Linked DNA regions of Homo sapiens: all the other regions are linked to region 4. Evidence: fine-mapped QTL for protein levels in blood plasma. A gene starts in region 4. Each other region holds a variant in brackets. All regions are shown on one strand. Distances are from middle to middle.

Region 1 (4,169 bases), 21 kb after region 4:
CACCACTGCACCCAGCTAATTTTTTCTTGTATTTTTAGTAGAGATGGGTTTTCACTGTGTTGGGCAGGCTGGTCTTGAACTCCCAACCTCAGGTGTTCCCCCTGCCCCAGCCTCCCAAAGTGCTAGGATTATAAGCGTAAACTACCGTGCCCAGCATTTATTTACAAATTTTTCTAACAAAGCCCAGTGTGCATACTTTCCTTTGTTGGTTGCCATATCTTCAAAAAGATAATCCACTACTTGACAGGCTGAGGCTAGAAGATTGAGCTGAGGAGATCAAGACCAGCCCAGGCAATATAGTAAGATACTATCTCAAAAATTATTTTTATTTTTATTTTTACTTTTATTTTTAATTTTTTTTTTTAAGACAGAGTCTCGCTCTGTCACCTAGACTGGAGTGCAGTGGCATGATCTCGGCTCCCTGCGGTCTCCATCTCCTGGGTTCAAGTGATTCTCGTATCTCCTCTTGGGTAGCTGGGATTACAGGCATGCACCACCACATCTGGCTAATTTTTGTATATTTTAAGTAGAGACGGGGTTTTTCCATGTTGCCCAGGCTGGTCTTGAACTCTGGCCTCAAGTGATCTGCCCGCCTCAGCCTCCCAACTGCTGGGATTACAGGCATGAGCCATTGCACCTGGCTAAAAAAAATTTTTTTTTAAGGTAACCGAGATTTTCCTAACACAAATGGTCTTTCAAATTTTTATTTAGGTATATAAAAACAAACAAAAAGAGAAGCTATGCAAATAAGTTACATTTAATTTAAATATAAAATCTAAATGCAAATATATTAATGCTGCTTCTCATAAAAAATTCTTACATATTTTTGGTTAGATGTCAGTTCTCAGTTTTAATCTGCTACTTTTTATTTCTTACCCTCATCTTACCCATTATCCATCCATCCATCCACCCACTGAAGTGATATTTATGCATTTAGTTCGTACTGCTACCAGTGTGGTTGGAGTATTTACTGAATGCCTACTGATGCATATCTGACAAAACACACAGGATGTCTACTCTCATGGACCACTTACTCTAGTGGGGTAGTAGAAGTAAGTATATTGAAAAACATAAGATGACTAATGTCTTTGTCTGTTTGTGTTGCTATAAAGGAGTACCTGAGCCTGGGTAATTTATACAGAAAAGAGTTTTATTTGGTTAATGATTCTGCAGGCTATACAAGAAACATGGTGCCAGCATCTGCTTCTTCTGAGAGCCTCAGGCAGCTTCCACACATGGGGGAAAGTGCAGCAGGTAATATGACAAGAGTCCAGGAGGCAAGAGATTGGGGAGAGACATGCCAGGCTCTTTTTAACACTCAGTTCTCCTGGGACTCATAGAGCGAGAACTCACCAAGCTGTTCATAAGGGATCTGCTTCCCTGACCGAGACACTTCCCATTAGGCCCCACCTCCAGCACTGAGGATCAAATTCCAATATGAGATTTGGAGGGGACAAATGTTCAAACTATATCAACCAGCATTTCCAAGTTGGCCCCCAACGTTCCTTATTTTAGTACTAAAAGTCCCACATTCTGGGAAACTCTAGGTCCCAGGTATACAGTAATGATCGGCCAACCTAAATACAATGTATGAGAGATTAATCAATCCTATGAGAAATGAAGGTAAACAAGGCAAGAGGGATAAGGAATTCCAGGGTAGTCTGTTGCTACTTTAAATAGAGCTGTCGTAAATCCTGAATTAAGATGATTATATGGTAGCAAAGACTTGAAAAGTTGAGGGAGTTAGCCATGTAATATAGAGAAATAATAAGCTTTAAGTTAAAACAGGAAACAAAAGAGCCTTAAAACATGAATGTATCTGCATATTCCAGGAATAATGAGGAGCTCATGCGGTTGGAGTGGAAGACTAACAGGAGGCTAGGTAGAGATAATGTACAGCATTAGGTGCCTTTGTGAGAGATTTGGCTACTATTTTGAGCAGATGAGGATTAATTATGGGGTTTTAAGCAGAGGAAATACATGATCTGGCATAAGTTTTTAAAGGCTTAATCTACATTCTGTTAAAATTAGACTGGAAGAGGAAAGAATAGCAACAGAGAAATCAGATAAGAGATGGCTGTTACTAAAATCTAGGAGAAATATGATGGTTCTTCTAACTAGGATATTGTTTGTGGAAATGATGGCATGATGGGATATAAATTGATGTGTGAGAAATGAAAGATTCAAAAACAGCTCCAGAATTTGGGGTCAAAACAACTAGAAGCATAGAGATGTGGTCGAGTGAAAGGAAGAAGAATTCTCTGGCTACAAGGGGAAGATTAGAAACCAGGAATGCTGTTTGGGGAGTTAGATATATGAGG[G/A]AAAATTCTGGGCCAGACACATACACAGACTTACATTCCTTTTGCCCAAAACACAGCAAAAATAAAGGAGAAATGGAGAGAGAAAGGACTATAAGAAAAAAAAAGACGATTAGCCTTTTCTTTGGATGACATATTTTCATGTATTTATGAAATGGAATGCCCGTCCTGGGGTTATTGGCCTTGCTAATATGAACATTATTGTTTATTGATCCTAAATATCTATAAACATTTATTGCACTATATAATATAAAAATGGTAATTTATAGGTAAAGAGAGTTCATAGAAAGTGTACATGTTCCGTTTAGAAATTAGTATTTTATTTTTCCTAGGTGTATATGCCATGGACAAAACATTTGAGAACAGTTCATTTTCAGTCCACCCGTTTTTCCGGCCAAAAATATGCATTTTTCTCCTTTAAAAATATATATTTTTGGGGGGAGCAGAGAGGTGGGGAAAACAGGGTCTCACTCTGTTGTCTAGGCTGGAATGGAGGGTATATGTATCTGTATATCTATCTATATCTATGTCTGTACCTATATCTATATGTATATAGAGAGAAATGAATTTCTTCTAATCTGTATTCTATTTTCCTCCTCCAATGGTTTAAGTAATAGTATATCAAATATTAGGTAGTTGAAGTTAAGAAAGTAAAGAAGTTTCTCTATCTCTGTCTCTTTAGTTACATAGTATCACTACCTATTTCACATAAGGCTCTCAGTCCTTTAGTCTCTCACCTTTTGATCTAATTGTCCCTTGCTTCCTCCTAAACATTCATTGAAAATTTCTCTATTAATTCCCCTACAAGTAGGAGACTTGTTTTTACATAGAGCACATAGAGGGTCACTTATCATATCTGAAGACTGAAGGTATTTAAGAAAACATTGTATGTGAGACTGGAATGAGGTATTAATACACTGTACCAAAATTGCAGTTACATAGTTTTTATTTATTGAATCCAGAGCAGAATGAACCAAGATTCTCCTTGCTGAGTCCAGTTGCTGCTTCATAATCTTTTTCAGCACAGCACTCCAAGCATATATCACCCATCTAAGTTCTCACAACAACAGGGACCATAGTTGAAACGGACCTTTATTAAATGCTTTTTATGCATAAGTCTCTGCACAAACTGGACTCTGTTTTTTACGTATTTACTCTTTACAATAATCCTTTTAGGTAAGCATCATTCCCATTCTTGTTCTGTGTTTTAGAACGTCTGAGGCTCCCTGCATTTTTGCTTGAGTCTCTCCAGGTTGTTACATTTCTCCTGGTAGAATTCTGAAGCAAGCCGACCTGTCTGAGAGAGTGCAAAAGCTATTGAGCTCCACAGCAAGTTTTTCATAACATGACAAAGATATCCTTCTAAGTTATTTATTTATTTATTTATATTTTGTTTTACTTCATGAAATATTTCAAATTTACAAGAAGATATAAACAATAATATAACACCTACCTGTGTATTAGCCACTGAGATTTTAACATGTTAACTAGATCGCTTTTAAAATAAAGAAATTGTTATAGATATGACTTGGGTTCTCATCCCACTACAGACCCACAAGAGACTGGATTAGGTTCCTAACTCTAAATGACCCAAGGTCATGTATCCACATAGGGTTAAAACTATAGCTCTCAGGGCTTGGCACCTATATTTGCGATCACTACCCATACTTCTCTGGCCTGGATGCCCAATTTAATTTGTGACACATGGAGATTCAGCATTCTAACTTCAGGCTTGCCTCAGTATTTTTTTCCTTAAAAAGACTCCACATCATATTGGTATATACCGTATTTTTTAAAACTTATTTTACTATTATGTAAGATAATTTTGAGGAGAACATTATAGAAACTTTA
Region 2 (4,169 bases), 57 kb before region 4:
TGATTCTAGTAGATATCGAATGGTATATCCTCATAGTTTTAATCTGTGTATCCTACAAATTTCTGTTTGTTGGTTTGTTTTTGAGACAGAGTTTCGCTCTTGTTGCTCAGGCTGGAGTTCAGTGGCACAATCTCAGCTCACTGCAACCTCCGCCTCCTGGGTTCAAGCAATTCTCCTGCCTCAGCCTCCCAAGTAGCTGGGATTACCGGCGCCCGCTACCACTTCCAGCTAATTTTTGTATTTTTAGCAGAGACGGGGTTTCACCATGTCGGCCAGACTGTTCTCAGACTCCTGACCTCAGGTGATCCACCCACCTCAGCTTCTGAAAGTGCTGGGATTACAGGCGTGAGCCACCGCCCCAGGCAAATTTTTATAAGCTTATTTACCATCTGTATTAGGTAACTTTGATAAAGTAACTGTATAAATCTTTTGAGAATTTTTACTTGGTTTATTTTTCTTACTGTTGAGTTTGAGAACTTTATATATTTGGGATAAAAACCTTTTATCAGATATGCATCTTGAAATGTTTTTCTTGTCTTGTCTTTTTTTTTTTTTTTTTGAGAGGGAGTCTCACTCTGTTGCCCAGGCTGGAGTAGTGCAATCCCAGCTTACTGCAACTTCCGCCTCCCAGGTTCAAGTGATTCTCCTGCCTCAGCCTCCCAAGTAGCTGGGATTACAGGTGCCCACCACCATGCCTGGCTAAGTTTTTGTATTTTTAGTAGAGATGGGGTTTCACCATGTTGGCCAGGCTGGTTTTGAACTCCTGACCTCAAGTGATCTGCCTGCCTTGGCCTCCCGAAGTACTAGGATTACAGGTGTGAGCCACCGCCCAGCCTGTCTTTTCATTCTTTGAACAATATACTCATAAAGCAGAAGTTTTTTATTTTAATGAAGTCCATTTTTATTATTCTGCTGTGGTTTGTAAGAACTCATTGACTAACTCAAGGTCACAAAAATTTTCTCCTTTATTTTTTTCTAGACATTTTATAGCTTCAGGTTTTATACTGAGGTCTATGATTTATTTGGGATTAATTCGACAAATGTAAATTTGTCGAAAAGACTATTTTTCTTTACTAAATTGCTTTTGCACCTTTATCACCAATCAGTTGTCTGTATATTCATGGGATTATTTCTAAACTCTCTATTTTATTCCACTGATTGTTGTATTTTTGTATTTGCGTATTTATACACCACCACCACATTATTTTGAATACTGTAGTTTTATAATAAATCTTAAAATCATGCAGTGACAGTCCTTCAAATTTATTTTTCTTTTGCAAAGTTACATTGGCTGAGCTATGTCACTATATTTTCCATATTGATTTTTGAATTGGCTCACTAATTTCTACAAAAACTCTTTTGGAATTCTGATTGTGATTACATTGAATCTACAAATCGATTTGGGCAGAATTGAAACCTTAAAAATATTGATTTTTCTGACTCTTGAATAAAGTATGTCTCTGCATTTATTTAGGTATTTTAAAATTTCTCTGAGCAATGTTTTGCAGTTTTCTCTTACAGATATTTTTACATATTTTGTTAGCTTACCATATATACTTCATAGTTTCGACGCTACTGTACATGGGAATTATCATTGATAATTTTAATTTCCAACTGTTTATTGCTAGTATGGAGAAATATAATAGACTTTTAAATATTCACCTTATATTCTGAAACCTTGATAAACTTATTTGTTTCTTCTAGTAACTTTTTTTGTAGATGTCATCAGATTTTCTACACAAATAATCATTCTGTGTGCCAGCGGAAGCACTTCTATCTTTTCCTTTCCAATGCTTTTATTCTTTTCCTTGCCTGAACCTCCCGTTCAATGAGAAATAAAAGTAGTGAGAACAATATCCTTATTTTGAAATTGATCTTGAGAAGAGATCATTCAGTGTTGCACCACTAAGTATGGTGTAAACTGTAGATGTTTCATAGACGTCCTTAATCAGTTTTAGGAAGTTCCCTTTTGTTCCTTGCATTCTTAGAGGACTGATCAGGAATAGGTGTTAATTTTGTCTAATATTTTTCTACATCTATTGAGATGATTATA[T/G]ATACATTTTTATTTTAAAAATATCTAGTATTTTCTTTGTTTTTTTTTAGGTTAAAAATTTCTAGTCTTTTAACATGAATTACACTCATTAATTATATAAGGTTAAAACAATTTAGGATTGCATTATATTAATGGATTAGATCTGTTATATGTATTATATTATGGGTTATTTCTGTTAAAATTTGGCTTAGAATGTTTGCAACTATATTTATGGGTTTTTTGTTTCTGTTCATTTTGTTCTGGTTTTTTAGAGGTAGAGTCTTACTCTGTTGCCCAGGCTGGACTGCAGTGGCACGACCACAGGTCACTGAAGCTTTGACCTCCCAGGCTGAAGTGATCCTCCTGCCTCAGCCTCCAAAGTAGCTGGGACAACGGTGACCACAGGCATGCACCATCATCCCCAGCTAATTATTTTAATTTGAGAGAAAGAGACAGGCTCTTCTTATGTTGCCCTGGCTGGCCTTGAAGTCCCAGGTTCAAGTGATCCTCCTGCCTCGGCCTCTCAAAGTGTTGGGATTACAGGTGTGACCCACCATGCCTGGCCAGTACTTTTTTTTTTTTTTTTGAGGTGGAGTTTTGCTCTGTCGCCCAGGCTGGAGTGCAGTGGCGCGATCTTGGCTCACTGCAACCTCTGTCTCCCGGGTTCAAGCGATTCTCCTGCCTTGGCCTCCTGAGTAGCTGGGATTACAGGCACCCCCCACCATACTCAGCAAATTTTTGCATTTTTAGTAGAGATAGGGTTCCACCATGTTGGCCAGGGTGGTCTCGAACTCCTGACCTCAGGTGATCTGCCCGCCTAGGCCCCCAAAGTGCTGGGATTACAGGTGTGAGCCACCGTGCTTGGCCATGGCCAGTATTTTTAAACATAGTTTTCTTTTCTCTTTATGACTTTGCCTTATTTGAATATCAGATAAATATTTCTCAATGTCAATTTTTCTGGAAGATTTGGTTTAGAATTAGTACTATTTCTTCATTAAATGTTTGATACAATTTACCCTTGAAGTCATCTGGGCATAGGGTTTTCTTTGTAGTAAGGTTTTCAACTACAGATTCAGTTTCTTTTTTTTCTTTTTTTTGAGACGGAGACTTGCTTTGTCGCCCAGGCTGCAGTGCAGTGGCACCATCTCGGCTCACTGCGACCTCCGCCTCCCGGGTTCAAGCGATTTTCCTGCCTCAGCCCCCAAGTAGCTGGGATTACAGGCGCGAGCCACCATGTCCCTCTAATTTTTGTATTTTAGTAGGGGCGGGGTTTCACCATGCTGGCCAGGCTGGTCTCGAACTCCTGACCTTGTGATCCGCCCGCCTCAGCCTCCCAAAGTGCTGGGATTACAGGCGTGAGCCACCGCACCCGGCCAGATTCAGTTTTTTTTAGATGTTGAGCTGTTCAAAGGATTCCTTCTTCAATGAGCTTTGGTGGTTACTTTCAAGGAATTTATGAGCTTCATCTAAGTTGTTTAATTTATTGGCATACCATTTTTAAAAATTATTTGAATATCTGTAGAATCTTTAGCATTGCCACTTCCTTCCTGACAGTGTTAATTGTATCTTTTTTTTTTAAAACTAATCGGCTTAGCTAGAGATTTATCAATTTCATTTTTCTTCTCAAAAAAGCTATTTGGTCAACAGAGACAAGATGGCCAAATAGACGCAGACAGGAAGCACCACTCCCGCTGACAGAAAGGGAGACCGGGAACCCTTTCAGGTTCTGGAACACCAGTGCCAGTTCCTGGCCCTGAACAACCCTTGGCAAGGCAGCCCACTCTTGCTGTGGACCTCTAGGATTCCAGCCACAAGAGATCCTACACTCCCCATAAACATTCGAACTGGCATGGGGATATGCCCTACAAGCAGGCAGAGGCAGAACTCCAGCCTGCATAGAGCCCGGTTTTTGTTGTTGTTGTTGTTTGTTTGTTTGTTTTGCGTTGGGGGCAGTTCCAGTGGAACATGGCCATGCGCACCCATCCCCCAAGGCTCTCCGTCCTCTTCCGAATAACTCTAACCCCACTGACTGCCGCGCAAAGAGAACAGCAGGGTCGACTTTCCCTTCGGAGTGGGGCACTTCTGTTCCGCAGGACCTCCTGCCCTCCAGCCCCTCTCAAGTCCTCTGCCTGGCCGC
Region 3 (4,169 bases), 27 kb after region 4:
TGTATAGGACTATACACATGTGTGCACATAAATATTTATAGATAGAAATTTAAAAATTTCTTTCTTCTCTTCCTAGTCTAAGACATAAATCATCCTTGCAAATTTTTCTTTTACTTTTTTTCTTCCTTTCCCAGGTATTTATAACGGTTACTACCTCATTCCTGCACTTTTCCCTCCATATTCTTCCATGTCCCAGAATCATTCTGCATCTCTTTGTTAGTCTTTCCCTCATATTTTTATGTCAACATTAATGTTTAATTCTGTGCCTTAAAAGCCATGGGTCAGGAACAAATCTTGGTTGATGTGATTTCCGCTTTCAGAATATCGACATGTGTTCCATATTTACTAAGACAAAATAAGTTATTAAACCTGGACAAATTTCTGACTGGCCTCAGCATAGATGCTTTTTCTCTTAAGCATATGAGCATCAATGTGAAGCAGGACTTGTGTGTGCTTTGAGAAAAGTGCTGGCTGGCCCATGCATGTCTGTACATGTGAGTAATCATGCCACCAAAGCTAAAGCTTTTCTTATGTGCTTTTCACAGGAATTTGCCGCGTCTCAGAGCTACTCTGAGTTTTTCTACTCTTATTGGACAGGGCTTTTGCGCCCTGACAGTGGCAAGGCCTGGCTGTGGATGGATGGAACCCCTTTCACTTCTGAACTGTAAGCCTTCAGGATATTTTATGGGAAAGGCATTTAACAAAGATATTTTGCTTGAGTGATAGAGCTCAAGAATTTGGTCCATCAAGTATTAATCAAACTTCTGCTTTGTACTGGATACTGTGTTTGCAGGAGGATGCCTGAAGATATTTGAACAATAGTGCATCCTCATTTTGTTTGTGTGTGTGTGTGTGTTTGTTCGTTTGATTGTTTTTTGAGATAGGGTCTTGTTCTGTTGCATGGGCTGGAGTGCAGTGGTGCAAGCTCTGCTCACTGAAACCTCTGCCTCCCAGGCTCAAGCTCTCCTCTCACCTCAGCCTTCTGAGTAGCTCGGACTACAGGCGTGCACCACTACATGCAGCTAATTTTTTGTCTTTTTTGGAAAGACAGGATTATGATGTGTTGCCCAGTCTTGTTTAGAACTCCTGGACTCAAGTGATTTGCCCATCTTGGCCTCCCAAAGTGCTGAGATTACAAGCATGAGCCACCGCACCCGGCCAGTGCCTGCTTTTGAACTGCTTATAAGCCAGTGAGGGAGACAGATACATAGCATTAGTAAAATATCAGGGTAGTTCTCTTGCTGCTTTCAGAAGTTTGTGTCTGGGACATACTGCAGATGAGAGAAGGGAGAGACAGAGAGAGAGAGAGAGAGAGAGAGAGATCTTTCCCTGAGTGAGTAAATTGAAGCCCAGGAGTCCAGGCTGTAATGGTGGTTGCCTAAAGTCACACAACTTGTCAGTACCCAGAGATAGCATAAGAGTTCTTGGCTTTCTGTGCAGCAAAATAGGGAGCACATCTTTTAAAAAACACAATCTCTGAGAAAAGATTTGCTGAAAATGTAAGGGGTAATATAAAACACTAGTCGTACATATGCTGTGAGCATTTAGACAGGAGTACATATGGTATCTGTGTTAGTCCATTTTTGCATCAGCATAAATGAATGCCTGAGGTTGGATAGCTTATAAAGAAAGGAGGTTTAATTGGCTCACAATCCTGCAGGCTGTACAAGCATCTGCTTGGCTTCTGAGGAGGCTTCAGGGAGCTTTACTCATGGCAGAAGGCGAAGCAAGAGCTGGCATGTCCAATGGCAAGAGAGAACACAAAAGAGAAGGGGCTGGGGGGAGGTTCCAGGCCCTTTTAAGCCACCAGATCTTGCATCAACTAACTGAGTGAGAACTCACTCATCACCAAGAAGAGGGCACCAAGCCATTCATGAGGGATCCACCCCGATGACCCGAACACCTCCCACCAGGCCCCATCTCCAACACTGGGGATAACATTTCAACTAAGATTTGGAAAGAACACACATCCAAACCACATCAGTATCCTTTGAAAGAGGAAATTGTAATTTCTCTATCAAAATATATCACATTTAAAGCCATATTTGAACAGACACCATTCTTCCCTATATACAATATATCATTATTCTCCCAGGAGACAGGATATATTTGATGTAATCATTTGTATTTTACAGTTAAGTAAACTGAGTTACAGAGAAGGTAGAGAACTTTTTAAGTGGCAGAAACACTATATAAATTTGGAGGAGAACACGTAGCTTCGCTTTAGTTAGAAATGGTTTTTGCTGTTTGGGGTGACCTGCTGTTTCTAAGAATGAGTATGGAAACTTAGGGGCTGAAGAGAAAGAGGCACATGACCCCAGTTTCCCGGTAAACTTATTCTGGTATCTAGACTATAATTTTATAACTCTAGAAAGAATGGGTATTTAATATTTTATTTTAGAAATAAACCGTGATTGAATTTACTTTTTCTTCCTTTCTTAAGGTTCCATATTATAATAGATGTCACCAGCCCAAGAAGCAG[A/C]GACTGTGTGGCCATCCTTAATGGGATGATCTTCTCAAAGGACTGCAAAGAATTGAAGCGTTGTGTCTGTGAGAGAAGGGCAGGAATGGTGAAGCCAGAGAGCCTCCATGTCCCCCCTGAAACATTAGGCGAAGGTGACTGATTCGCCCTCTGCAACTACAAATAGCAGAGTGAGCCAGGCGGTGCCAAAGCAAGGGCTAGTTGAGACATTGGGAAATGGAACATAATCAGGAAAGACTATCTCTCTGACTAGTACAAAATGGGTTCTCGTGTTTCCTGTTCAGGATCACCAGCATTTCTGAGCTTGGGTTTATGCACGTATTTAACAGTCACAAGAAGTCTTATTTACATGCCACCAACCAACCTCAGAAACCCATAATGTCATCTGCCTTCTTGGCTTAGAGATAACTTTTAGCTCTCTTTCTTCTCAATGTCTAATATCACCTCCCTGTTTTCATGTCTTCCTTACACTTGGTGGAATAAGAAACTTTTTGAAGTAGAGGAAATACATTGAGGTAACATCCTTTTCTCTGACAGTCAAGTAGTCCATCAGAAATTGGCAGTCACTTCCCAGATTGTACCAGCAAATACACAAGGAATTCTTTTTGTTTGTTTCAGTTCATACTAGTCCCTTCCCAATCCATCAGTAAAGACCCCATCTGCCTTGTCCATGCCGTTTCCCAACAGGGATGTCACTTGATATGAGAATCTCAAATCTCAATGCCTTATAAGCATTCCTTCCTGTGTCCATTAAGACTCTGATAATTGTCTCCCCTCCATAGGAATTTCTCCCAGGAAAGAAATATATCCCCATCTCCGTTTCATATCAGAACTACCGTCCCCGATATTCCCTTCAGAGAGATTAAAGACCAGAAAAAAGTGAGCCTCTTCATCTGCACCTGTAATAGTTTCAGTTCCTATTTTCTTCCATTGACCCATATTTATACCTTTCAGGTACTGAAGATTTAATAATAATAAATGTAAATACTGTGAAGTGTGTGTGATTTTACAATGGACTTATGGTTGGTGGGAAAATTCAGCATGGAAATGCTTTTCAAAATATGATAGCGGTCATTATTTTGATTGTGCCTTACTGAAAGTTTTTGGGGAATTTACAAGAGTACTGATTACATGATTATCTGGAGAAAATAAGATGTCTTTGAAATACGTGTTGGCTTCAAGAAAACAGTTTTAACGTTTTCCTAAAATGAAATCTTTTGAGGTGAGCTTATGGCATCAACACATGGTTGATGAGGAAGCTGAGTTGCATTAGTGCACATGATTTCCAGTCAGGTCATGGGAAATGAACAGAGACAGTGACATCTTTGTAGCTGCTCCTTTGTGAGGCACTTCTTTCTTGAGACGACTCCATGCACAAATATAACAGGGATCATTGGGAATGACACCATCACAGCCACCAAGTTTATTGGTTTACTGATAAATCAATTTTGAGGGTTTTATGCTAGAAAAGATAACATTATAAATCTTTGTTTTTCAACAGTGGAAACTGAGGTGCTTCAGTTTTGTTTTTCATAAACATCTATCTCATGGTAAAATGACGTATAGTAGCAATCATATGATAGAAAGAACACATTGGTGCTCATTTTCATAAACTTCATTTTGTTAGATTGTCACTTAGCAAAGACTATTGCGGATTCTTCCTTGAGAACTTTCCTTTCAATTTTCT
Region 4 (4,169 bases):
CTTCTTGGGAAAAGAGTTCACAGTGAGAAGGTTTTTTTTTTTTTTTTTTTTTTTCAGATGGAGTCTCGCTCTGTTGCCCAGGCTGGAGTGCAGTGGTGTGATCTTGGCTCACTGCAACCTCCGCCTCCCGGATTCAAGTGATTCTCCTACCTCAGCCTCCCCAGTAGCTGGTATTATAGGCACCCGCCACCACGCCCGGCTAATTTTCATATTTTCAGTAGAAACGGGGTTTTGCCATGTTGGTCAGGCTGGTCTCGAACTCCTGACCTCAGGTGATCCACCCACCTCAGCCTCCCAAAGTGCTGGGATTAAAGGCGTGACCACCATGGCTGGCCCACAGTGAGAATTTTTTACTCACTATTTTGTCCTTCCAAGTGGTAGAGTCATGCTAACACTGCCTCCAATCTGCCATCTAAAAAAAAAAAAATTCCAATTTTTAAAAAATTTAGAATAATTTGATGAACAACAAACAGCTTGAAACACATGTGAATCCACAATGTGCACTTCCTCATAGATCTTTTATATGGTCTGGCTACCCCAACTGGAGCATTCTGACACTCCTTTATATTTAGCATGCTTGATTTTGCCCACCTATCACCTAACATCTGGAAAAGTTTTGGTAGAGTAATATAAGTCTATTGTACAGATTCAGGAAGAACTTTTAGACATTATCTAAAACAATCTTCTTGTCTTTCAGTTTAGGAAATGTAGATGCAAATTGTTAATTGTCCTCCCAAAGGCACAAGGTTGTTACTGATACCTGTCTTGTTATGGTTTGAATGTGTTTCCTGCAGAATTCAGGTGTTGCCAGTGTGGTAGTATTGAGAGAGGTGGGGCCTTTAAGAGATGATTAGTCCTTGAAGTCTTCTCTCTTGAGGATGGTATTAAGGCCTTTATAAAAGACGCTACATGTAGCATTTGGCTGGCTTGACCTTCTGCTTTCTGCCACGTGAGAATACCCTTCCTCCTCTACAGAGAGTGCAGCTCTCACCTGACATCCAAACCTGCCAGTGCCTTGATCTTAGATTTCCCACCTTCTGGAATGCTGAGAAATACATTTCTATTGCTTATAATTTATCTGGTCTCAGGTATCCTGTTGTAGGTCAGCACAAACAGACTAAGATGGGAATATAATTCTAATGTACTGATTCAGGAAGAATTTTTTCACATTACCTAAAACATTTTCTTCTCAGTTTAGGAGATTTAGGCACAAATGAACTGGCTTCCCCAAACCACATGGTGGTTAGTAATAGTTTTAAAAGTTTTTACTTCCAGTAAATTGTATAATTCCTCGTGATCATAATGTACCAAATGTGCTATAAAATGTTGAATCAAGTTCAGATACTATAAGAAAGACCACTACTCTGTTCTTGGAGAAAGGAAGGGGCTAGGTCCTATAATCTCTTCTCTTTTCACAAAGACACAGAGAGGTTAAACTAAGTGACTCCCTAAAGGATGGGTAAGAAACAGGGATGTGTGTCCTTCCAAGTTATTATTATTCTGCAGACTCTGAAGGAACCACAGTGCTACACCGTGCTATTGTAAGTTCTTGCCTTCTTTACAGTGAAGTTACATGAGAAATGCAAACAGGTAAACAAAAAAGACCTGAGAAAGGCCAACTTTTTGACAACTGTTTAGACTGAGACGGCCTAAACAGAAAACACATGCTATTTCCCCTCAGCCTGACTGATTTGGCATTCAGAGTACAAGCTCACAGGAGAGGGGCTGGGCCTGTCCAGTCAGGAATTGCAGTCAGAGACTTTCCCTGCCCCTCGCTGGGAAAGAACATTAGGAATGCCTTTTAGTGCCTTGCTTCCTGAACTAGCTCACAGTAGCCCGGCGGCCCAGGGCAATCCGACCACATTTCACTCTCACCGCTGTAGGAATCCAGATGCAGGCCAAGTACAGCAGCACGAGGGACATGCTGGATGATGATGGGGACACCACCATGAGCCTGCATTCTCAAGGCTCTGCCACAACTCGGCATCCAGAGCCCCGGCGCACAGGTACCCTGTCTCCTGGAGTCCAAATAGACCACAGTCCTTGTGAAATGTGTGAGATGATCTATCCCTCCTAGAAATGGAGATATTTAGCTTGCATCTTATAATTTTATTTCCAATTACTCGCCCTGTGACATAGTAGTGATTTTTTTTTTTCAGTTATATTCAGTTCCATAATTCCCACACTTAGAGAAGGATTTTATTTCCTGGGCCACTCAGCCAATCTAAAGCTAAAATATGACTTCAGTTCTAGTGAAAAGGACTCACATGGTAATATACACAGGACTAGGTTCTAGGTCCTAAACCAGGTATGCCACTTTCCTTCTGTGTAACTTTGGATGAGTTGTTTAAGTATCCTGGTAGCATCATATTCTTTATTTATAAAATATTAACGGCCACAAACATGTATAAAGGGCTCATTATGTGCTGGCAGTGTTTTAAATACTTTAAGTATATTAATTCATATTAACTTGACTTAATATTAAATAGAAGTAATAAAACTTCCTTTACAAGGTGGTTGTGAGTACTGAGAATGATAAATTATGTAAAATATTTGAATGTCTGTCTGATCTGATATAGACTGACACAAAATTGCTGAAAGGAACACTTTAGGTTCTTAAGAAATGGAATGTTGAAAGGAATCCCACATTTTAACATTCATTCAGTGCCTGTGTTTTAATATGCCCTTTCCCTTCTGATTATATCATTGTTTTCTTCACCTTTGTAAATCTGGATATACCTTTAAAAAAAAAAAACTATCCTGTTCCTTATTTCTTTATCAAATAACTTTTAGTTTTCCTTCCTTTCTCCTACTAAACCCTCCATTCACTTTCTATTTATTTCTATTTATTAAATGACCCTCCACCTGAAACCTACTAATATGGCTTTTTTTTTTTTTAACTAAACTACCCAGTAAGCTGTTAAGGGACATTGGGGATTTCCAACCTCTTTGAAATGAAGCTAAGTGACAAAAGTAGGGATGTCAGCTTTTGTAGCCACAGGATATGTGTAATAGGATACAAAGCGTTTTCCTCCAAAAAAACTTACGAAGAGTCCATTTTTACGGCTGTGGTTTTGAGTAGCTTGTATATAACTTCATTTTCCACCTTTGACTGGAGCCAGGAACTCTGTCAAGGACTAGAGATCAGCATAATTAAGAACAGCATGTACAAATAAGTTCTGCTGAGGTTGAAGGGTGGAGAGGGAGGTGGAGCAAGATAAAACACTAGCTGCAACATCTGGGAGCTTCTTTGTAAGAAATGGATATTGAAACAGTAGAAGTGGAGATTACAAAGAATTGTCTTGGAAGAAATCATCTGGAAATAGTTATCTTAGGCAACATATATGAGATCTTGTTTTCATCTTTTTATGGTAATACAAACATTTAGGGGAATACCATCATAGAAGTATAATTATTTCTTAGATAAACATATCTGATATACCTTCGCTGATAAAAATAACAGCAGAAATCACTCAGAAATTTTCGGCAATGTGGAGGATTCAGATTCAACATAATGATGTGATACCATTAAGAGCTGGCAACTTTTATTTTTTAGAATTAATAAAAATAAATCACACACACATTCATTTAATTTCTAGACTTTTGTCAATAACAATTGACGTAACAACTATGTTTGTGTTTAAAAATGCCAAACAATTAAGATAGTAAAAATGCCAAACAATTAAGATAGTGAAAATGAAAAACAACAACCTCATACATTTTTCACAAACTTATGTTTGGGGTCATGTTATCCTAGTACTGAGGATATAATGTCCAATGTGATATGGTCCCTGTTCATAAGGAAATTGAAAGTCTAATACAATTCTCAACTAAGGAGTAAGTATAATAAGGTGTTATGGCAGAAGCATGTACAGTACAGCCGAGAGCTTAACCAAGCTCTCGGCTTAATTTTTACCTAATTAAGTAGAGGAGTTCAGGAAAGGCTTAACAGAAGGAGCAACTGTGGAGTTGAGTTAATTTTAACATCTTCCACATAATAAGGAATCGGGAGTGAGGGTGTTTGAGAGGCTGGGGACACTATAGACAGAGAGACGTATGAAGGGAAAGTCATGAAGGTTTTCAGTAGCTTTGTATTTTTAGAGAACTATAAGCAATATGTATGGCGTAGGTGTAGAGTTGGAGGAGGGAAACTTAGCAAAGGGGTAAGT

Which allele goes with the higher level. Alleles are on the strand shown, and positions count from the first base shown. The strength of an association depends on the size of the effect and on how common the allele is.
In carriers of allele A in region 1, the plasma level of the protein whose gene starts at base 1,829 in region 4 tends to be lower than with G alone (strong association).
For the plasma level of the protein whose gene starts at base 1,829 in region 4, allele G in region 2 goes with a lower level than allele T (weak association).
In carriers of allele A in region 3, the plasma level of the protein whose gene starts at base 1,829 in region 4 tends to be higher than with C alone (strong association).

What was found. PIP is the chance, under the fine-mapping model, that this variant and not a neighbour inherited with it causes the effect. Protein levels are from antibody-based Olink assays in UK Biobank. Linkage for the fine-mapping came from a reference panel and not from the study's own genotypes, which makes the PIPs less certain.
Region 1: its variant is fine-mapped to the plasma level of the CLEC1A protein (UK Biobank, PIP above 0.99).
Region 2: its variant is fine-mapped to the plasma level of the CLEC1A protein (UK Biobank, PIP above 0.99).
Region 3: its variant is fine-mapped to the plasma level of the CLEC1A protein (UK Biobank, PIP above 0.99). The variant lies in the coding sequence of CLEC1A. If it changes the protein, the assay may bind it differently, which can mimic a change of level.

What each region holds. Positions count from the first base shown.
Region 1 is chr12:10,076,014-10,080,182 of GRCh38, reverse strand. All of the region lies in intron 3 of CLEC1A (C-type lectin domain family 1 member A), which reads left to right. Among named protein-coding and RNA genes, the nearest start is that of CLEC1A, 21 kb to the left of the region's middle. The variant G/A (reference allele first, on the strand shown) is at 2,322.
Region 2 is chr12:10,153,921-10,158,089 of GRCh38, reverse strand. No RefSeq gene overlaps it. Among named protein-coding and RNA genes, the nearest start is that of OLR1, 16 kb to the left of the region's middle. RefSeq lists an enhancer at 4,157-4,169. The variant T/G (reference allele first, on the strand shown) is at 2,054.
Region 3 is chr12:10,069,788-10,073,956 of GRCh38, reverse strand. CLEC1A (C-type lectin domain family 1 member A) reads left to right here. Exons shown (of 6, transcript NM_016511.4): 5 at 546-664; 6 at 2,444-4,169. The coding sequence ends at 2,624. Among named protein-coding and RNA genes, the nearest start is that of CLEC1A, 27 kb to the left of the region's middle. The variant A/C (reference allele first, on the strand shown) is at 2,483.
Region 4 is chr12:10,096,645-10,100,813 of GRCh38, reverse strand. It overlaps CLEC1A (C-type lectin domain family 1 member A), which reads left to right and starts at 1,829. Exons shown (of 6, transcript NM_016511.4): 1 at 1,829-2,006. The coding sequence starts at 1,892.